Linked DNA regions of Homo sapiens. The protein of the gene in region 2 purifies or fractionates together with the protein of the main gene of each other region. This does not show direct contact. Each region holds a gene or a part of one and is shown on either strand. Other genes may lie near its edges. The genes, in order: TBC1D22B and ARFGEF1.

What was found.
Region 1: the proteins of ARFGEF1 (region 2) and TBC1D22B purify together in Homo sapiens (pull-down; one large-scale study listed by IntAct). This does not show direct contact.

What each region holds. Positions count from the first base shown.
Region 1 is NC_000006.12:37,260,706-37,264,531, reverse strand, and holds part of TBC1D22B (TBC1 domain family member 22B), read right to left. Parts: intron 1-3,826. UniProt on the Homo sapiens protein: May act as a GTPase-activating protein for Rab family protein(s).
Region 2 is NC_000008.11:67,221,473-67,225,298, forward strand, and holds part of ARFGEF1 (brefeldin A-inhibited guanine nucleotide-exchange protein 1), read right to left. Parts: intron 3,562-3,826; coding exon 3,431-3,561; exon of another isoform or gene 3,217-3,430; intron 1-3,216. UniProt on the Homo sapiens protein: Promotes guanine-nucleotide exchange on ARF1 and ARF3. Promotes the activation of ARF1/ARF3 through replacement of GDP with GTP. Involved in vesicular trafficking.

The DNA.
Region 1 (3,826 bases), on a different chromosome or scaffold from region 2:
CGAGACTGGCCTGGCCAACACAGCAAAACCCCATCTCTACTAAAAATAAAAATTAGCTGGGCTTGGTGGCACACATCTGTAATCCCAGCTACTCAGGACGCTGAGGCACAAGAATTGCTTGAGTCTGGGAGGCAGAGGTTGCGGTGAGCCGAGATCGTGCCATTGCACTCCAGCCAGGGCAACAAGAGTGAAACCCCGTGTCAAAAACAAAACAAAACCAAACAAAACAAAACACCCTGGCATACCCCTCCCTCCCTTCCTAGCAAGCCACTCTATTGGATCTGGCATTTTTCACACTCATTTTTATATTTTTATTTTCTATGTATGTATCCCTAAATAATGTATGATTTTGCATGTTTTTTAAACTTTATATAAATAACATCACACTGTAAATATGACTTATTTTGACTCTAAATCATGTTACTTTAAATTTTACTTAATTCCATGGCTAACTGGCTGATCTCTCCAACACAAGTTAAAAAAAAAAAATACAAAACATTTGCTCTAACACAAGTGAAAAAGCATTTAATTGACATTTTCAAACACAAAGAAAAGTACAGAAAATGATATAATAAACATCCACAAACCCATCACTCTGATTTACAAATGTTAACATTTGTCACATTTCATTTAAGAAAAAAAGTGTTAGGCCGGTCATAGTGGCTCACGCCTGTAATCCCAGCACTTTGGGAGGCCAAGGTGGGTGGGTCATGAGGTCAGGAGATCAAGACTATCCTGGCCAAAATGGTGAAACCCCATCTCTACTGAAAATACAAGAAAATTAGCTGGGTGTGGTGGCACGCATCTGTAGTCCCAGCTACTCGGGAGGCCAAGGCAGGAGAATCGCTTGAACCCGGGAGGCGGAAGTTGCAGTGAGCGGAGATCGGGCCACTGCACTCCAGCCTGGCAACAGAGTAAGACTCCATGTCAAAAAAACAAAACAAAACAAAACAAAAACAAAGTGTTAGACTACTGATGCCCTAATTGCAGTCCCTAGTCCTGTTTCTTCACTTCCCAAGAGATAACAATTATTCTGAAATTGGAGGGAACTCCTCCCATCTGTTTTTATTCCTCTACATATATTCACAGATCCATAAACAACACACAGTATTTTTTATGTTTTTAAACTTCACATAAAAGACTGCACATTGCACATATCTTTCTACATCTTGCTCTTTGCATTCAACAATGTGTTTTCACCCAATTCCACTTTTAAGTTTGTCTGATTACAAATATAACATATGTTTAGTGGAAAAACCAGAAAGTCAATCATACACAGCATCTTCTCCAGGGGAAGCCATGATGCCAAGCAGATTTTTTAGCTCCTAGAAAGCCATAGTGGTGCCATATCTTTTTCTGTAGCCCCCTTGCCACCTGGCAGAGCATGACACATACCAGCAGGCACTTAACAATATTTAGTAAGTGAAGATTAGATCTCTACAAAACCTAGGCCTCCACTTAAGCTAGACCTAAAAACCAGAGGTTAGTTAACACACTGCATCTCGAAGAAATCACACCACATATGCAGAGAAAAGAATGCCATGGAATATGCTGCCACGCAGACAAAATGGAACAAAAGTTCTGATTAATCTCCGTCACTCTCTTTAATAAAACCAACACCATAGAATGTATTGACATAGCTGTTTTGCCTAGTTGAAACAGTGCAAACATCTTGGTAGGAAAAATCAACAGGTGTTTGTTTAGCACTGATAAAAGAGCTAGTGCAAATATGGGAAAAAGACCCATCAAATTTAAATGCCAAACGTGTTGGCAACTGATGTAGGTTCACACACTCACTCCACATTAGTCTTCCAGAACAGGTGATCTATGCTGTTTCGATGATAATTTAGTATCTTCTAGTCACTCACTCTACCAGTAAAACATCTCCAAGCCAAGAACAAGTTGTAATGTACCTGCCCAGACAGGCTGTGACTTTTACACTAAGTCTCCTATCAGATTCATTATTATTTTAGGATCGGCTTCAAGTTCTTAACTTGGCCTCTCTTTCTAACAACGAAGGGCCTGGAAGACTCAGGTAATTTCGATTTTGGCCAGACGCAGAGGCTCATGCCTGTAATCCCAACACTTTTGGAGGATGAAGTGGGCAGACTGCTTGAGCCCAGGAGTTCATGACCAGCCTGGGCAACATGGCAAGACCTGTCTCTACAAAAAATACAAAAATTAGCCAGGGCTGGGCACGGTGGCTCACACCTATAATCTCAGAACTTTGGGAGGCTGAGGTGGGCTTGAGGTCAAGAGATCACTTGAGGTCAAGAGTTCAAGACCAGCCTGGCCAACATGGCGAAACCCCCTTCTCTACTAAAAATACAAAAATTAGCTGGGCATGGTGGCATGTGCCTGTAATCCCAGCTACTCAGGAGGCTGAGGCAGGAGACTCGTTTAATCCTGGGAGGTAGAGGCTGCAGTGAGCTGAGATCGTGCCACTGCACTCCAGCCTGGGCAACAGAGGGAGACCCCATCTCAAAAAAAAAAAAAAAAAGGTGATTTTTTTTTTCTCCTGTGCCCGAGCTCTAGACACACACACACACACACACACACACACACACACACACACACACACACACACTGACCAAAGCTTTTTTATTTTTCCCCCATAGGTTTGTGCCACCAAGCCCAGATAATTTTTTTGTGTGTTTTTAGTAGAGACGGAGATTCACCATGTTGGCCAGGCTGGTCTCGAACTCCTGACCTCAAATGATCCACCTGTCTCAGCCTCCCAAAGTGCTGGGATTACAGGTGTGAGCCACCACACCCAACCAGATCAAAGCTTTTCAATTTCAGTTTCAAAAACTGAAGCAAGGAGAGAAAACAAAAATGATAGCTACTATCATCGTAACTATCCTTCTTATAATAGCTAATATTATTGTGTACCTCCTAACCAATTATTATGTATTATCTCATTTAATCCTCATAACAGCCCCATGGAGCAGATACTCTGTCCCTATTTTAGAGATGGGGAGACTGATGCATTGAGAGGTTAATTAAATCCCATAAGATCACATAGCTAGAAAGCAGAGCTGGGATTTTAACCTAGGCAGTCAGATTTCAGAGCCTGCATTTTTTTTTTTTTTTTTTTTTGGAGACAATCTCTTGCTCTGTTGCCCAGGCTGGAGTGGAGTGACGCAATCTCAGTTCACTGCAACCTCCGTCTCCCAGGTTCAAGAGATTCTTGGGCATCAGCCTCCTGAGTAGCTGGGACTACAGGCACACACCACCAAGCCCAGCTAATTTGTATTTTTAGTAGAGATGGGGGGTTTCACCACGTTGGCCAGGCTGGTCTCGGACTCCTGGCCTCAAGCGATCCACCTGCCTCAGCCTTCCAAAATTCTGGGATTACAGGCCACCACACCTGCCAAAGCCTGCAATGGTAGAGATTGCCTCTTATCTTCTAGGCATTAATACAATGACCATTTGATGTGCTAAGTAAATGGGGCTCATGTGAATAACTGAGAGAACTTAAAAGATGCTTAGTTCCACCAAGTTACTACATGACCCAGCAATTCCACTCCTATTTATCAGCAGAAGAATAGAAAATATATATCCAAACAAAAACCTCTGCATAAATGTTCATAAAAGCATTACGTACAATAGCCCAAAAGTGAAAACAATTCAAATATCCATCAACTGATGAATGAACAAAATGTGGTGTATGTATACTATGGAATATTATTCAGCCATAAAATGGAATGAAGTACTGATACATACTACAGCGTGGACAAGCCTGAAATCACTGTGCTTAATAAAAGAAGCCACTCACAAAAGGCCTCAGATCATATTACTCCATATATATAAAATGTCCAAAAGT
Region 2 (3,826 bases):
AAAGTAAAAAATAAAAATAGAAATAGAAAAAAGCTTATAGAATAAGGATATAAAGAAAATACTTTTATATAGCTGTACAATGTGTTTTAAGCTAAGTGTTAATATAAGAGTCAAGTTTTTTAAAATTTTAAAAATTATAAAGCAAAAAAGTTACAGTAGGCTATGGTTAATTTTTTACTGCAGAAAAATATCTTCTCATAAATTTAAAGTAGCCTAAGTTTACAGTGTTTGCCTTTGCATTCACTCACCACTCACTCACTGAGTCACCCAGAACAATTTCCAGTCCGGCGAGTTCCAGTCATGGTAAGTGCCCTATATGGGTTTTTGTTGTTGCTTTTTTTTTTCTTTCTTTTTTTTTTGAGATGGAGTCTTGCTCTGTCGCCCAGGCTGGAGTGCAGTGGCATGATCTCTGCTCACTGCAAGCTCCACCTCCCAGGTTCAAGCCATTTTCCTGCCTCAGCCTCCCAAGTAGCTGGGACTACAGGTGCCCACCACCACGCCCGGCTAATTTTTGGTATTTTTAGTAGAGACGGGGTTTCACTGTGTTAGCCAGGATGGTCTCGATCTCCTTTCCTCGTGATCCGCCCACCTTGGCCTCCCAAAGTGCTGGGATTACAGGCGTGAGCCACCATGCATGCCCAGCCTACAGGTTTTATCTTTTATGCCATGTTTTTACTGTACCTTTTCCATGCATATATATATATATACACATATATATATATATATATATATACACACACATATATATATATGTATATGTATGTATGTATGTATGTATGTATGTATGTATGTATGTATTTTTTTTTTTTTTGAGACAGAGTCTTATACTGTCACCCTGGCTGGAGTGCAGTGGTGCCATCTTGGCTCACTGCAACCTCCGCCTCCTGGGTTCAAACAATTCTCATGCCTCACCTTCCCAAGTAGCTGGGATTACAGGTGTGCACCACCACACCCGGCTAATTTTTGTATTTGTATTTTTTAATTTTTATTTTTATTTTGAGACAGAGTCTCACTCTGTTGCCTGGGCTGGAGTAGAGTGGCACTCTCAGCTCACTGCAACCTCTACCTCCCAGGTTCAAGCGATTCTCCTGCCTCAGCCTCCTAAGTAGCTGCGATTACAGGTGCGCACCACCACGCCTCGCTAATTTTTGTATTTTTAGTAGAGAAGGGGTTTCACCACGTTGTCCAGGATGGTCTTGAACTCCTGACCTCAGATGATCCGCCCACCTGGGCCTCCCAAAGTGCTGGGATTATAGGTATGGCCACCATGCCTGGCCAAATTTTTGTATTTTTAGTAGAGATGGGGTTTCACCAGGTTGGCCAGGCTGGTCTCAAACTCCTGACATCAGGTGATCTGCCCACCTTGGCCTCCCAAAATGCTGAGATTACAGGCGTGAGCCACTGCACCCAGCCTGTTTAGATATGTTTAGATACACAAACACCACCGTATTAACAGCTGCCTACAGTACAGTAACATGCTGTGCAGGTTGTACCCAAGGAGCAATAGGCTATGCCATCTAGATTTGTGTAAGTACATGCTATGATGTTCACACAATGCTGAAATTGCCTACTAATGCATTGCAGAGAACATACTCCTGTCATTAAATGATGCCTGACTATATTTGGGACTTTAATTTTCGGTATTTATCCCCAAATCTAGAGAATTTTGGAAGAATTAAGTAAGAATGCACACAAGAAATTCTTTCTACACAGTGTTATACCAATTATAGTGCTGCACTATTTGTTGTTGTTAAAGACAGAGAGTCTCAATTTGTTGCCTAGGCTGGAGTACAGTGGTGTGATCAGGGCTCACCATAGCCCCAACCTCCTGTGCTTAGGCAATCCCGCCTCAGCCTCATGAGCAGCAGGAACTAGAGGCATGACCACCATGCCTAGTTAACTTTTTGTTCAAAGAGATGGGGTCTCACTATGTTGCCTAGGTTGGTTTCAAACAATCCTCCCACCTTGACATCCCAAAGTGCTGGGATTACAGATGTGAGCCATGGCATCCGGCCCACATTTTAAGATGGAAGCTAAATAGCAACCCATACATATCCTGGGATGAGGTAGGAAAATCAAAGGCCATCACTGAACAAAGTTTACTGATCTTTTCTCTCTCCTTTACTAACTAGAACACACACAACCTCTTTAACAACTGGAATCTACCCATAATCTGAACATGGAATATGGTGAGAAATAAGGTATCACAGTGCCAAGCAACAGAAGGCTAAGAAAGCAGGTGGATCCTCCATCAAACAGACTTCTACAAATAAATAAAGGGTGAGGGGAGAGGGTGCTGAGTTTTCATGACCTGCTAGTCATGATATGTCAGCCGCTCCACTGAGGCAGGTGGACAGCTGAAATGGGGCTATCTTGAATTTTAACAAGTTCCTAACAGGTCCACTGATAAACAATCCACCATGTCTAAATATAAAATAAAATGTTTTTCTATAGTGCTCTCATAATTAAAATCCCTAAGGGTTAAGTCCTATTTTGATTATCTATTTCATACGAATTTCTGTTGTAACAAATAATACTATAAAAATGAAAAATTTCTTGGGATATAAGTCAAATTTAACCTTGGTGGGGGATGGGGGTGGTTCTGGCATAAGGTGAGAAAAGAGAGATTCATTCTGTGCTACCTTTAGAAATTCAAAAAATTCGATAAAGTTACACATCCAAATAACAGAAGATTCTTCCAAATAAGATGGAAAGATTCCTAAAAGATTTTGTTTACCATAAAATTGAACTCACGGTGGGTTTAGAGGTTGACAGATATTAGGACACACAAGCTGGCCATTTCAATGTGGCAAAGTACAGGGTAAAAAAACTACTATGGGAATCATGTGAGCCGTGACCTAAGAACAGTGTGTTAGCATTTGGCCAGTTACATAATACCCATAATAGTTCCTTTACAGATTGACTATATGTTCATAATGATCTTTTATTGGCAATATACTTTTGAAAGAGTTCTATTTGAATAGCTCTATATTATTCCAAACTATGTTACTGACCAGGTTACAAAAAGAAATGGTTCTTCACCTAAAACCCAGCAAGGATGTGCAGTTAAAAATTCTTCTATCATTCATCAGGAAATAAAATAAATTTTGCCACTAACTTCAACTTATTATTGGAAACAAATATATGAAAAGACGGAATGTTTAAAGGATTAAATTAACTTAGAAGCTAAAATCAAATGGAGGCTATAATCAAATATTTTAAAAATAATGTAGTATTTCCATTTTTATTTTGCTCTAGTTAATATTTTTAAATCATATTAACATATTTTAAAATATACCTAATAATTAATATATTTGACAAAACACTTGATTTTATGGTCTTTAACTGTGAGATTGTGTTTATAAAGAAGAGTTAATTTGATTAAAGTCAAAATAAATCCAAAATTTTAATTACAAATATAGATTGTTACCTGGTTCTTACATCTAATTTGCATCTATTGATGATACAGGATAACTCAAAGAGAATTGGGAACCATCCTCTCACCCACACCCTGTCTTCAGGTGCTACGTTCATATCATCGCTTGTGTATTCCTTGAAAGCCTTCAAGAAAAAAGGTAGGGTTATTAAAGGCAAAACATAACACCCATACATTCAGTATACTAACTTCTCAAAAAATAATTTAAATGCTTCACAAATAACCAGTGAGCAATTTAATAAAAAATAATTTATAAAAAATGGACACTATAACTGCCTACAATTTTAGTATATGTGCCACTGAAATAGGCAAAACATAACTGCCTATAAAGAGCTCTGGACTAGAATCCAAAAGTTAGCTTCACTTTCAACTGTCACCAGCTTTCTGCAT